Linked DNA regions of Homo sapiens. The protein of the gene in region 2 purifies or fractionates together with the protein of the main gene of each other region. This does not show direct contact. Each region holds a gene or a part of one and is shown on either strand. Other genes may lie near its edges.

Region 1 (3,500 bases), on a different chromosome or scaffold from region 2:
ATAGCAGATTAACTCACTTTCTGGGTAAATTAAGGCAAGACTTAAATGCCTCCATTTCGTCTGTAGAGCAGGGATGGTAGCATGATACTTATACAGCCACACGTATGATTACATATGTAATATATTTTGTGAATTTTAGAGCATCTAAATAGCCACTATAAGCACAGTATTGAATTATTAAAGCATTTTGGAAGGAATAATTCTGTTACAGGAGGGCTTTGAAAAGATACTAATTCAGATGGAAGATGAATACATACCTTTTTTTGCACATTTTGGAATTTTGTTGACAGTTTGGTAACCCGTTTTGGCCTCTGGTTTAGAGAAACATATTGTGCACTAGTCTCAGTTCTTGCATACATCACATACATCTGTTTCCTTTACTTTCTTTTCTTTTTAGTTGTTGATATAAGACCCTCAGTAATTACCTGAGTTTTTGATGCTTTTTTGGATGGGTTGTTTTTTTGTTTTTTTTTTTTTTTAATTTTGAACCATTCCATCTTCTCTGTCTTTCTCTATCTTTTTATCCTTTTTCGCCTTTCTTCCCCCACCACCTGGGAGCCATGAGGCAAGGGAGGAAGGTGGTTGCCTTCTTTTGCCCTCTGAATTTGAACCTTCTGAAGAAGTAGACCTCCCCTGGAGGAAAGAATCCTGAAAATAGCAGTGCGCTTTCACTAAATTTCTATGCTGTGAAAAGTGCAGAACTGTATTTATGAAAAAAAAAATATATATATATATATATATATGTGTAAATGTTCTAATTTTAACACTTGGCTAACAAGCAATGTGACCTCCTATGTCAAGAGGAGACATTTACCCAAAGGATCATTTCTCCTTCCCCTCCCTCCCATGAGTAGCCATGAAGAGTCTGTGTTTGGGTTTCTAGGGGCTGCAGTCTGTCTGAGGATGGGGGCATGCTGGCCCAGTGTCAAGGCCTGTCAAAAGAAGTGACCGAGCTCAGTCAGGAAGAGAAGAAATTAGATGAACTGATCCAAAGCTGCACCCTGGACCTCAAACTGTTAACCGAGGATTCAGAGAATCAAAGATATCCTTTGTGCCGCCAGTTCTCTGGGGGTTAGTGCTTCCTAGACTATTTCCAGAGTTGACAATCTGACTTATGCACAAGGTAGATTATTATTCTGATGTCATGCAAATGAGTACCTGTGTGCCTGTGTGTGTATGTGTGTGTGTGTGCACGTGTGTGTGTAAACCCAGTTAGCTTTGCCTAAAAAGTCAGTATTTATGGTAAGATAGTCACCAACTCGATCCTATTATTATCTATTTTGATACCAGGTGGGAACTGTTTTTTAAAGCATTTTTTCATGTGTGGTTGAGACATGGGTATACTCGTAGCGTAAGGCCACACTATTAAAAGATACATAAGGTGTCGGTATTAATATTAATGACAACACTAAGCAGATTCGTCTTTGGCTTCCCAGATTTTTGGTGGGTGTTAGCTGTCACTGTTGGGGTTCTCACATTCTATTTTCTTCTCACCAGATATCGTAGCAATTGAAATTGGTTGAATCTATCTGATTGGGCTATAGTTGAAGGGTTTGAAAGAGTAGAGAAAAATCATACTATAACTCTTAAAGTGCATTCTGCTGATTCCCAATGAAAAAACTGATTTCAAAAGCACCCCAAGACCTGAGAAACCCCTCTCAATTCCTCTGTTCCACTACAAACATTAGTCCTCGCAAATAAAAATACAAAAGGTCAGTTCTTGTTCTCAACTTCCTGACAATCTATTGACGATCTCAGGAAAACTTGCTCTTCATCATCTCACTACAGACAAAGTAAGAGAGAGATTGCCTCATTATGTCAAACAAGACTTGCCAATATTCTCAGTTATTAGAAGACAAAAAACAGTACTGTAAGTTATCCCATCTCTAGTTTTAGTTCCAAACTTCTGATGATTGCACATTTACCATTATTTGACAAAAACTAAAAAGTGTTCTGCCCAGATTCTTCTAGTGTCTCATCTTTAACAGGCTCCCCCTTGGAGAATATGGAGATATTTATTTTCTTCCAATGTTGGCAGTTTTTCAAACCTGCAATTGTTCATTTCCTGTTGACCAAAGAATTAACCTTGTCAGCCGATAATTAGTGAGATGGAAGAGAGGCGTAGTGATTTGGACCCCCAGTGGTTGGCAGAGTGGGTTTACAGGGGAAGAAACCAACAGTTGGGCTGTTTCATTCATTGTTTGGTTGGGAGCCCCATTGTGGAAGAGATGGGTGGTTACATGTGATTGGCAGCCTTCCGGGACATGTGGCTTATGGCATTGTCACCTATATTAGCTCTCTCTGGGGCCTTTGTTGCAGAAAATGAAAGCTTCCTTGCAGGGAACTTCGAACCCAAGGAGTAAATTCAGGAGGGAGCCACAAAGGAAGCACTTTTAAGTTTGTAAGATTAGAAAATACATTTGCACAATTTATTTCAGTTCACCATTCAGTTCCCAAATTGGTACAGCTTGTTCACAAATGTGTTGAAATTTTCCTTCCTGCAGCATGTTGAGTAATCGTAGATGAGTTTTTCTTTTACACTTGATCTTAGCCAAAAGGCCAAGAAGTGATGAGTTTTTATTTTAATAAGTTCTTGTCATACAGCTTTTTGACAGTGAGCTGTAGTGTAAGTACCTGGTTGTCAGTTTTTTCCAGTGTTCTCAGTAAAAAATCAGAACTGCCTGGCCCTCTATAAAGGCATCCGTTGACTTCTTTGATGGGTTATGTAGTGACCTAAAACCCAGAATCCTGCAAGAGCAGCCACTACAAGCTCAACACTGAATTAGCCATCATCTCAACTGTAAAGATTTGAAGGAGATAGTCTGTGATAGATCCCCTACATGTGTATGCAGATTTCGTGTGAATGTGCTTTCTTTCTGGAGTAGTAGTTCCATAGCTGCATTCAGTTTCTAATAAGAAGCTACTACAGCCAGGCACGGTGGCTCATGCCTGTAATCCCAGCTACTCGGGAGGCTGAGGCAGGAGAATCACTTGAACCTGGGAGACAGAGGTGGCAGTGAGCTGAAATCGTGCCACTGCACTCCAGCCTTAGTGACAGAGTGGGAGTCCGTCTCAAAAAAAAAAAAAAAAAGAAGCTACTATCGTAAGGGACATGATTTATTCTAGGGTCTCTAAGCCCCCCCTTTTTTTTATATTAAACATATTAGATCACGGACTCTATTAGCCATTAAATACGTTATACTACCTGCTGAAATGCCTTCATTGGTTTGTTACTTGCTGTTTTATCCTAGGAATTTTTTGTGGGTACATATAAAAAATAATAACGGGCTAAAGACATTGTACATTAATTGAATACTTTTGTCATATCGTAAGTACCATATTCTTTCATGATAGCCTTTTAGGCTTGGCTGTCAGGACATTTAAAAGAATGGTTCAGTGCTTAGAAAAAATGACCAAGGCCGGGCGCCGTGGCTCACACCTGTAATCCCAGCACTTTGGGAGGCCGGAGGCAGGCAGATCACTTGAGTCCAGGAGTTCAA
Region 2 (2,788 bases):
GAGTGTAGTGGCATGATCTCAGCTCACTGCAACCTCCACCTCCCTGGTTCAAGTGATATTTGTGCCTCAGCCCCCTGAATAGCTAGGATTACAGGCGTGGGCCACCACGCCTGGTTAATCTCTGTATTTTTAGTAGAGGTAGAGTTTCACCATTTTGGCCAGGCTGGTTTCGAACTCCTGGCCTCAAGTGATCTGCCACCTTGGCCTCCCAAAGTGCTGGGAATACAGGCGTGAGCCACTGTGCCCGCCCTGATGAGATATTTTATTACCAATGTTAGTATTGAGAAACTGAAATGTTTGAAGAAGCACAACCCAGGATCGTGCTGGTAGCACCACAGTACTTAAACTGTTGGTCAATTAAGGCCAGAAAGGGAAATTGTTAATTTAGCTCTGGTGCTTTGGTTTACAGGAACATAACTCTTAACTGACATCTGACATCATGATAGCCATATGTGCTCAGCTCTGGGTAGAGTTTCTGCAGTTACTCATCTGAACTAATGAACAATAACTGACCACTAGTCACTTTATGCCGTGTAACTAGCTCTAGGCCATACTTTCACTGGTTACTGGTGTGAAAGCTGAAATTCATTTTGTTACATTCTGGTGAAGACCCCTCTTGATAATGGGAATGTTTTAACTCTCTTGATGAAAAAATAATCTGTATTTGTGTTGATGTTCACATTTCTGTAGCACATTTCTTATCCTTTTGGTTGAATGAAAAGATCTTGTATAGGGGTGTGGAGATGGGGAGTGGGTAGAAGTGTGTGAAGGACGCTTTGCATTTGGGATCTGTTCACAAACAGCCATATGAGTGTGTTAATGAATGTCAGCCAGTTACCAACCCTGCTGGTTGTTATGGGTTGTTTTGAGAAGTTGGCAACCAGGCATCTAAGATGTTGCCTGGTACAGGCCTCTTTTCTTCCCTGAGGCCCATGACATTTCTCTGTTACTCTAGAGGGTTTCTCAGATGGCCAGTAGGCTCCTCCCTGCTTAGGGTCTCATTTCTCTGAAAAGAGGATGAACTGAAAAGCAGGTAGTTCCAGAAGCTAATTGCTGCTTTCCATCATAATTATTTTTCTTGTGAGAACATTTCTCTTTTAATTAGCTAGTGATTTTGATTAAGACTAATTCACTAAACATACCCTTCCCTCAAATCACCTCAGGTAGCAATCTGTAAGTAACTAAAAGCATTGAAAAACACACAAGAAACATTTTTAAAAACTATTTTTAAAGGCCTGGCCGGGTGCAGTGGCTCACTCCTGTAATCCCAGCACTTTGGGAGGCCGAGACGGGTGGATCACCTGAGGTCAGGAATTTGAGACTAGCATGGCCAACATGGTGAAACCCCGTGTCTACTAAAAATACAAAAATTAGCTGGGCGTGGTGGCAGACGCCTGTAATCCCAGCTACTCAGGGAGGCTGAGGCACGAGAATCGCTTGAACCTGGGAGGCGGAGGTTGCAGTGAGCCAAGATTGCGCCACTGCACTCCAACCTGGGTGACAAGAGCAAGACTCCGTCTCACAAAAAACAAACAAAACTGACTGATTGAATATACTAAACCAAACTAAAATCATATTCTTTTGATTAAGTTTATCCATGGCTGTATTCTTCTATGAATTCTTCCATTTAATTCTTCCACGATTATCTTCTCCTGTAAATACATCACAGGAGTTAGAATTCTCTACCCATCAGCTGTACCATGTCGCAGAATTCATGCAGGCACAAAGTTGGAGTTACAGAGATGGGTTGACAGCAGGCAAACTTGGCCTATGTATTATAACCACAACTTCAAGTTCTTACCTCATGTGAATATTCACCCTTTCTTTAGTCTTCCAAGGCAAACAGCCCCGTCTCATCACCAGATGAGCAAGGTCTTGATATGGCATAGCAGATCTCCCTAGACACAGATCATGAGAAAAGATGGAAGAGACTTAGGGATTCAGGCATCAGATGAAGTTGGCTTTTCCCTTTTATGCCTTGTTTGTATTTACCCTGTCTAATACACTAAGGATACTTACTCATTGTACTTGCAGCTCAATATGTCTTTGCTGTTCAGATACTAAAATGTACCTCTGAGTCATTGTGAGCTGTGTGGTAGGTTGGACATTGGCATAGTTGGTGATGGGACTCAAAATGAAAAGGTGGTCTCTTTACCAGGTCACAGACTGTAGCAGATTGTGCTTGTTATCTGACAATGACTGTCACTTTGAGGGTCGTTGATTTGCATGCACTACTCTGGGGCCTTGTATTGGAGCCTTTTTTAAAAAAAATAAAATCTGAGATAGAGGTTGGGGGTGTGTGTGTCTGTGTGCACATGTGTTACAAGTGAGAATCATCAGATGACATCCCTTCTCCTTTCTTGATGACAACCATCTGAGTATCAGAATAGTTCCAGCACCTGTGTTGTTTGTCTGGTTAAGGCCTCTGGAAAAAATGAAGGTCACTGGGTTCTGAACAGGGGATAGATACGGGTTCCAGTTCTGCCCTTATTCCCAGTTATTCCTGCAGTGCTGGTTAAATGAACAGTTTTACAGAAGTATAGTGCAGATCCCTTAATGATCCTATCATCCCAGTTTCACACTGGAAGAAACTGAGGCTCAGAGATTGAGGAACCTTGTGACTGCCATCTGTGCCAGTCACCACCTCTGCATGACCACATTTCCCTCCATTAGCACTACCAGCATGCCTGTGAGGTAGTTACTCAGCTGTTCATCTGACCCCAGACGTAGAAAAGTTAAGAGAGATTAGCCTGGCTTAGGCCACACAGCCAGTCAGTGGTGGAATGAG
Region 3 (3,500 bases), on a different chromosome or scaffold from region 2:
TCTGAGTAGCTTCTAACCAGCACATAACTCCCCCAACAGTCTTTAAGTCTTTAGGTGCCCATATTTTCCTCTTTGTTCTCCCCCTTCAGACTGAGAGTTTGTAGAGAGAGGGCAACAGATCTTTTCAATACACAACTAATGCAAAATGTATCAGGTTTTTCTTGGATTTCAGCTACTCCCTGTTAAACAATCAGAGCTTAGTGAACAGTGATTCAGTGAGGAGGGAAAGCACTCAGGAAGGAGCAGGAACAAGTACAAGTTTATGAAAAGGATTAGCTAGCAAAACAAGGTCAAACTCTGCAATAGTTTGTTTTCCTCTCCCTAGTATCCCTCTTCAATCAGAAAAGAGACTGTTATCAGTTGCTGGTGTTATGACTGGGCACATCCGCCCTGGGTCAAATATGCTGCAGTCTGCAAAGCCAGCAGCAGATTGCAGTCCTCTGCAGTCCAGCCAGGCCAGCAGAACTTGTGTAGCCATGTGCCCTGTTATAGCTGTAATACTGAATTGGGAATGTTCCCTTAATGGGGCACTTGAGGGCAAAAGCAGTGAAAGCTTTTCCTTTCTCAAAGCAGACTGTTCTTCCCGTAGTGTTTTAAGAACACAGACATGTATTGGGCAAGGCAAAGCCAAAGGTGGCCTTTACAAGATTATTAAATCTGGTCTTCCAGGGTATCTAATCTGTGTGAGGACCCTGATGAACTAATTTTCTTCTAAAGTGCTATATATGTAGATATCATCATAGAGTTACACATGAAATGGCTCATTCAATACTTTTTTAGATGCCTGGAAATATTTAAGGGAGTAACTAATCAATTAGCAGCATTCCTGGGAGAACATTGTCTTGTCATTTTAACAGAAAACTCTCTTTGTGATTTTGCAGCCACGACAGCCCAACCCTGACTGGCGTTACTCTGCCTCCCTGAGAGCAGGCATGCACAGGTATGTATTTCCCTCCTCATTCACTCAGAAGTAACCTTAACTTGGTATGGCTCAGATAAACTGCATCTCCATAGGCCAGAAGCAGCTGTCAAAACTAAAAAGCTTTAGGTACTTTGCCAGGAAAATGCAATTATTTTGTCCCCATGTTTATTCCTTGAAAGATCGCAAATGGTCAGTGCCAGATGCTTATCAAGTGCTGGCATATAAGAGTCCTCTGTAAAATCACAGAAACAGGCTGCTATGTATTTTCTCCCATCAAAATTTCTACAGGGAAGTAATTTCAACCTCCTTCATCCCTCTCTACCTATGCTTTCTTTTCCTCCTTTAAAAACTGTAATTAATACTCATGCTTTGAGACTTGGGTACATTGTGCAATGTATACATACATGTTGTCTACCTTGTTTTTTTTTTAATCTCACATTGGCTATTACATCCTATTACCCTCAATAATTGATTGCTATTGTTGTTTGTGTTCACACCTATTAGAGCCTCCTCATCTTTCCCATCTGTTGCTATCTTATTGTCATCAATGACATGGTTCTTCAGAAGATGAGCCATGTAAAGGGCTCCAAATCTAGCTTACTTTAAATTAACCTAGAGTAACGGTATTAGTCTAAGACTCAGATTAAATATAATTTTGCTTTCTCTACTTTGTCTCTCTGACAGTAATTGATTAACTACCATTATTTCTGGAGGTGATCCAGTATCCATGCCATGGGGCCAAATAAAAGATTCATTATTTGCGAATGTCTTTGGAAACCAAATGGGAAGGACCAAGAAACAAATGATCACAACTATCAAAAGGATTTAATTTTAAAGAAGAAATAATCTTCAAACTTAAGCCCCTCAAAATATCTGGGCAACTATCAAGTGAATATTCACCAAACTTAGATCAGTTCGTAAAGAGAAAGCCTACAAAGTATGTGTAGAGTTAATGTGAAATTAGTTTTAGCCCATTAAAATGCATTAGATTGAAATAAATTAACATACTCTCAAGCATTACAAATGAGCAGAAATCATTACATTGGGTGCTATTTCTGATTCAGAAGCAATCAGTGAAGGGCTGAAGATTAGTAGTTGGCTTGGTAAGATGTCACATTGGAACCTGGGTCATAATTTTAGGCCAGAAACATTCATGCATATACCAGAATATTAGGTATCAGAAGAAATTCTTTATATTTATTAGAGACCAACTTGTGCTTTTGCCTGCATCTGAGCTGTTGGTGGAGACATGCAATGGGTAAAAGCATGGTTTACAGTACCAACTCTTGAAAAGTACCAAAGCTATGAGTTGTGCCTTAAAAACTACATTTGAAATAAAACATTAAAACATAACTTCCTGGACTGGGCGCGGTGGCTCACACCTGTAATCCCAGCACTTTGGGAGGCCGAGGTGGGCAGATCATGAGGTCAAGAGATCGAGACCATCCTGGACAACACGGTGAAACCCTGTCTCTACTAAAAATACAAAAATTAGCTGGGCGTGATGGCATGTGCCTGTAGTTCCAGCTACTAGGGAGGCTGAGGCAGGAGAATCGCTTGAACCCGGGAGGCGGAAGTTGCAGTGAGCCAAGATCGAGCCACTGCACTCCAGCCTGGCGACAGTGCGAGACTCTGTCTCAGAAGAATAAATAAATGAATAAAATAACATAACTTCCTTATCCCATTTTCAAATTGAAAAAAAAAAGCCAAATGTGCTCCTATTCGGGTTTCAATTAAGATATTATGAGATTTGAGTAGGGTAAGAAATAAAATAAAAATTGAAATTAAAATGCCATTTCTTTTTTGCATTGTAATACATTGAACATATTAAATGAGTTGTGAACCTAAATAATACTAATCTTTTTCGTATGTGTGCTTGGGTGTTCTCGGTCTTTCCAGTCTTGGACATCATGTAACTATTCTTTAAAAAATTCTGCTTTGAGCTGAGCTGGCTCCAGGATAGTTACACCTTCATGAATCTGACTGAGCCCACACAATTTGCTAGTAGGATCCAGGAACACTTGAAGGCTGTTAATATTTGGGGAAAAAAAACAGATAATTCTAGAGTGTAGACAAGGGGAAGAATAGTAAAAGGTCAGAGTTTAATGAGTGAATTTCTACTGGATATGTTGTTTGAAGTCAAAGAGTGAGAAAACATTGAACTTATATGTTGCCTTCCCTCTAATAGTTCAAGTTTGCCTGCTCTGTTGCCTCATATAACCCCTTTAGTCAGTAGTCTAAATTTTATTTTAGAAATTTAACTTTCAAGATAAGCAAATGTCTAGTTTAAAAGGGTCCTCTAGTCTAGGTGTAGTGGCTCATGCCTGTAATCCCAGCACTTTGGGAGGGTGAGGCAGGTGGATCACTTGAGGTCAGGAGTTCAAGACCAGCCTGGTCAATATGGTGAAAACCTGTCTCTACTAAAAATACAAAAATGAGCCAGGCATGGTGGCGGGTGCCTGTAGTCCCAGCTACTTGGGAGGCTGAGGCAGGAGAATTGCTTGAACCTGGGAGGCAGAGGTTGCAGTGAGCTGAGATCGTGCCACTGTACTCCAGCCTGAGTGACAGAGTGAGGCTT
Region 4 (4,023 bases), on a different chromosome or scaffold from region 2:
GGCAGAACAGGTAGGTTGCACTCACCACGAGGCGCCGGCAGCCCAGCTTTTCCTTCCCTGGAGGCTTGGGCATACACAGCCCTCTCTGAGCACCAAACCACCTAAGCAGCCTACCCGCTCTGCAGCCTCATCCAGGACGGTTTTCTGGCATCACTAAAGTTTTCGCAGGCACCCGCTGTGTCTGCAACAGAGCTTTGGGGATCTCCACACCCCTCTTTCAGTTGTGGCTCCTCACTGCCTCCCTCCCAATTGCAGTGCCAGGCAGAAAACCCAGGAGGTCAAAAGAAAAAGCCTGCATGTCCTGTTGTCTGTCCCCAACCCCGGCCATACAAATCCAGTCTCAGCTAAAAACTAGTTAGCAAGAAGGGCTCAACCCACATCTCTGGCCTCAGCCCTGAGGTTTGGGTTATACCAGGGCAGAGCGGGCCATCTCCCTCCTCAATACACACTACCAGAAAGGAGGCCTTGTGGGAAGGGCTGACTCAGTCAGCTCCTCACTCCCATTGGGAGCCCCAAATTGTAACTTGCCACCTTTTGAGATCCTCTTCCTAGAGTGCTTCTCCAACCAAAGAAAACTGCAAGTGCAAAATTCCCGCATGGAACGGTTTGGGGAATATGGACATTCTTTTCTCTCCATCAGGGACTAAAAGTGCAGCAGTGAGCCTGGCAGAAAGGGGGCCTCCCTTGCCGCTCAGGCCGTTCAGTGTCCCAGCACTCCACCTCCTGGCTCCTGGCTCCAGGCTCCAGGAATCCCAAACCCCCACACACCAGGCCCTTGAAGCAGTCCGCCAGGCCTGGCTCCCTAAAACATTATTTTCCTTTGGAAATCAATTTTGGGTTCCCAATTCAGGCCTCCGTAGCGCCAGACCCTATATCCCAGGACCCAGGCACCAAATCCCTCGGCCGGCCCAGCGCAGGATTCCGGGACAACGGATGGCAACTGGGGGCCGTCCGGAGGCTCCCAGGACCCCATCAGTGCCCGCTGGGCTGGGCTGGTCCGCCCCAGCCCCAAGACGCGCAGCTCTCGGAACCCTTGGAGCTGCCCGGCCCAGCCGCGCACAGAGCCGGCGGCAGAGCGGGCGCGGGCCGGGCCCGGCAGGGGGCTGACCGGGCTCGAGTGCCGGGCGGTGGCGGGGAAGGAGGACGAGAAGCGCTTACTGTTGGTAGTCTTGTTTGCAGTACAGTTTCCGATCCCGGAAGTAGCAGCTGGTGGTGAGGGCTTGCTGACACGCCGCGCACTGCAAACACTCCTCGTGCCAGGACGACTCGTTGACTCGCATCAGGAAGCGGTCGGAGATGGGCCGCTGGCAGCCCTCGCAGACGGCGGGATGCGGGCAGTCGGAGCCTGTAGCGCACAGGGCGAAAGCCCGGCCGTCAGCGCCGCCCGGCCCAGCCCCGGCGTCCCGGTCGCACCGGGCCCACAGCCCTCGGCCCCGAGGGCTCGGGCCGCCCGGGATCACCGCCTGCCGCCTGCGCTCCCCGGACCGCCGCGCCAGGGGCCGGGCGGCCCCGGCTAGTCCGTCCCAGTCCTCGGGCTCCGGCGTGGAGAGGCCGCGGGCCTCGAGCCTTGGCTCGGCGCTGTGCTCTCCCCTTCTCCGGAGAATCCGCGCTCCGTGTTAAGACAAATGACAACGAGCACGGCGCAGGGTGGCCGGCTGGGACCAAGACAGGCGAGGTGAGGCTGGGGCGCTCGCTGGCTGACACGCCCCACGGTGGCGTTCGTGGTCTTCTATCCCCGATCTCCCCAAAATCTGTGGTTTGAGTGACCAGGGAGACGTTTTTCTCTTAGAATCTCCCCCACCCCAGGTGACCTTGCGCCTCTCCCAAGCTCGCCAAGGTGATTGCTAGGTCCTCCATCACCCCTGCCACCCGCCACCTACCACATCGGAGTGGCAGCTCTAGAACCTAAGCCTGGAAAGGATGGTGGGTGGCGACTGGAGCTGTCCTGTCCCCTCAGGACGCCTGCCGGAGGCGTACTTGCGGCCCTCTGGCGATCACTCCAGGAGTCCTGTCTCTGCCTCCTCCCCATGTCCTGCAAACCCATTTCCTTTATCCGTTGGCCCCAACGCCCGTGTCCACAGCCGGACGACGCCCCATCCCACGCCCGAGACCACTCGGGCGTTCCGACCCCGCACTCACCCAGCAGCACCCCCAGAGTGGCGGGCCCGGGGCGCAGGGCGTGCTCCTCCATCTTGATGCCGTCCAACATCTTGGCGCAGTCCGTCTGCCCGCGAGGGAAGCACCTCTCCAGCGACTCGGGACCTGTTGCTATATCCATGGGACGCGGGGCGCGCTGCGGACCCCGCCGGCCGGGCTGCTCGCCCGCCGGCCCGTCCACCCGCTCTCCGCCGCCGCGGCCCTGGAACCGGGGAGGCGCGGCCCCCGCAGGGCAGGGGTTGCGCCGGCCCCCGGCGATCGTGGAGCGGCGACGCGCTGGCCCCGGGCCCCGGCGTCGTGCGGGCGGGCCGGGGCGGCTGCAGCCCGCGCCGCGCTCTCCCGGACACTTGCAGCCACGCGCGCCGGCTCCTCTGTCACCTGCTTGTCAGTCCCGGAACCCGGCGGCGGCGGCTGCTGCAGACGGAGCCGCGGGGAGGAGGCGGCGGCGGCGGTGGCGGTGGCGGCGGCGGCAGGCGGGGGAGGGGGTGGGGGTGCAGGGGCGGCCCCGCGGGCCGCGGGGGGGGCGCGCGGCGCAGCGGGGTCCCGGGCGGGGCGCAGCGGGCCGCGGGGCTCCGGGCGCGCTCCCCGCGCTACTCCAGTGCCATGGTGCGCCCGCTGAGCCGCCGGGTTTAGAGCTGGGGCTGGCGGCGGAGGGATACGGGCCGCCTCACCTCCCGAAACTTCCTGACATTTGAACCCCGCGGCCGGTATCCCTGCGCCGGGATGCGCCGCCGGCTCCACGTCAAATAGTGCCGTCCCGCCCCCCCGCGCGCCCCGGGGCTCCGCGCCCCTGGCCCGCGCCCCGCGCCGCGCCTGGCCCCGAGCTCAGGCCCCGGCTCCCCGGCCCGGCCGCCCCGCGGGCCCCTCGCAGAAGTTTTGATCGTCTTCGAAACAAATCCCTCTGCTCCACCCCCTTGAAAAATTGATTTGGGAGTTGGGGAGCGAAGGCTTTCTTTTTTCTCCTCTGCCTTCTTTATTATTAATATTTTGTAAAGCTCCAGCGCTACGAGGAGTGGCCCCGAGCGAGGCCAGACTGCGCGGACGGCAGGGAGCGCGGCGGCTCCGCCAGGGGACGGCGCCGGCCGGGAGTGGCCGCTTGGGAACCCCCGACTGTCGGCCGAGGTAGGTCGCGGGGGCTGAGTCGGAGTCCCCCGGGCGGCGGCGCCTGCTCGGGGCCGCTTGGTCCGCGGAGAGGGCCGGCTCCCAGGAACGAAGGACGGGGGCGGGCAGAAGGCGAGGACGGCTGGCCCTGGACTCGTGCAAGGGGGGCCCAGGCCCAGGAACGGGGAGTGAGCCTGGAGTGTGGGTGAGGGGTCTGGGAAAGCTCCGGGCCTGGCAGAGATTGGGCGGGGGACTGAGCCGATGGGAGGTTGGGGCCCCGGGATCGAGAATGGGGGACACTGGGACGACAAGGAAGGTCAGGCCTGGGTTCAGGCGACCGAGAGTTTAGAGGACAACTAAGGCTGGAAAAGGGGTCCCCGGGCAGGGGCAGGAGCAGTGGGCAAGACCCGGGCCTCCTAGGGTTTGCAGTGAGGGGCGCTAGGAGGGAGTGGTGGCCCCAGGGTAGCGGCTCTGAAGAAATTAGGTTGGCTGCCAAGATCGGGGTCCTTTGGCGGGTCGGGTGCCCGGCCAGGGGTCGCTGGGACGCGCGGATCAAGGACAGTGCTCTAGCCAGCCTGGGCAAAGTGGACCTCGGCAACGGGACGCGAAAGCTGGCGAGATGGAGCTGCCGACTTCCGCGCCAGCCGGGCCTGGCACCCGCGTCCGGTGCGAGAGGCCACAGCGTCGGACCGGCTGTCTGCGGCCCGTGGTCCCCACCGACGCGCGGCTCACCGGGGAGCAGGGGGGCGGTTGCGGCCCGGGGTA

Evidence for each region. The genes of interacting proteins can lie anywhere in the genome.
Region 1: the proteins of RBSN (region 2) and E2F3 purify together in Homo sapiens (pull-down; one large-scale study listed by IntAct). This does not show direct contact.
Region 3: the proteins of RBSN (region 2) and PCDHA4 purify together in Homo sapiens (affinity purification with mass spectrometry; 2 studies listed by BioGRID and IntAct, with this or other methods). This does not show direct contact.
Region 4: the proteins of RBSN (region 2) and LMX1B purify together in Homo sapiens (affinity purification with mass spectrometry; 2 studies listed by BioGRID and IntAct, with this or other methods). This does not show direct contact.

What each region holds. Positions count from the first base shown.
Region 1 is NC_000006.12:20,481,879-20,485,378, forward strand, and holds part of E2F3 (transcription factor E2F3), read left to right. Parts: intron 1-883; coding exon 884-1,042; coding exon of another isoform or gene 1,043-1,071; intron 1,072-3,500.
Region 2 is NC_000003.12:15,069,573-15,072,360, reverse strand, and holds the end of RBSN (rabenosyn-5), read left to right. Parts: 3' UTR 1-2,288; downstream 2,289-2,788. UniProt on the Homo sapiens protein: Rab4/Rab5 effector protein acting in early endocytic membrane fusion and membrane trafficking of recycling endosomes. Required for endosome fusion either homotypically or with clathrin coated vesicles.
Region 3 is NC_000005.10:140,978,068-140,981,567, forward strand, and holds part of PCDHA4 (protocadherin alpha-4 isoform 1 precursor), read left to right. Parts: intron 1-881; coding exon 882-940; intron 941-3,500. Other genes in the region: PCDHA1 (protocadherin alpha-1 isoform 1 precursor), read left to right, coding at 882-940; PCDHA2 (protocadherin alpha-2 isoform 1 precursor), read left to right, coding at 882-940; PCDHA3 (protocadherin alpha-3 isoform 1 precursor), read left to right, coding at 882-940; PCDHA5 (protocadherin alpha-5 isoform 1 precursor), read left to right, coding at 882-940; PCDHA6 (protocadherin alpha-6 isoform 1 precursor), read left to right, coding at 882-940; PCDHA7 (protocadherin alpha-7 isoform 1 precursor), read left to right, coding at 882-940; PCDHA8 (protocadherin alpha-8 isoform 1 precursor), read left to right, coding at 882-940; PCDHA9 (protocadherin alpha-9 isoform 1 precursor), read left to right, coding at 882-940; PCDHA10 (protocadherin alpha-10 isoform 1 precursor), read left to right, coding at 882-940; PCDHA11 (protocadherin alpha-11 isoform 1 precursor), read left to right, coding at 882-940; and 4 more. UniProt on the Homo sapiens protein: Calcium-dependent cell-adhesion protein involved in cells self-recognition and non-self discrimination. Thereby, it is involved in the establishment and maintenance of specific neuronal connections in the brain.
Region 4 is NC_000009.12:126,612,705-126,616,727, reverse strand, and holds the start of LMX1B (LIM homeobox transcription factor 1-beta), read right to left. Parts: upstream 2,801-4,023; 5' UTR 2,279-2,800; coding exon 2,140-2,278; intron 1,346-2,139; coding exon 1,159-1,345; intron 1-1,158. UniProt on the Homo sapiens protein: Transcription factor involved in the regulation of podocyte-expressed genes. Essential for the specification of dorsal limb fate at both the zeugopodal and autopodal levels.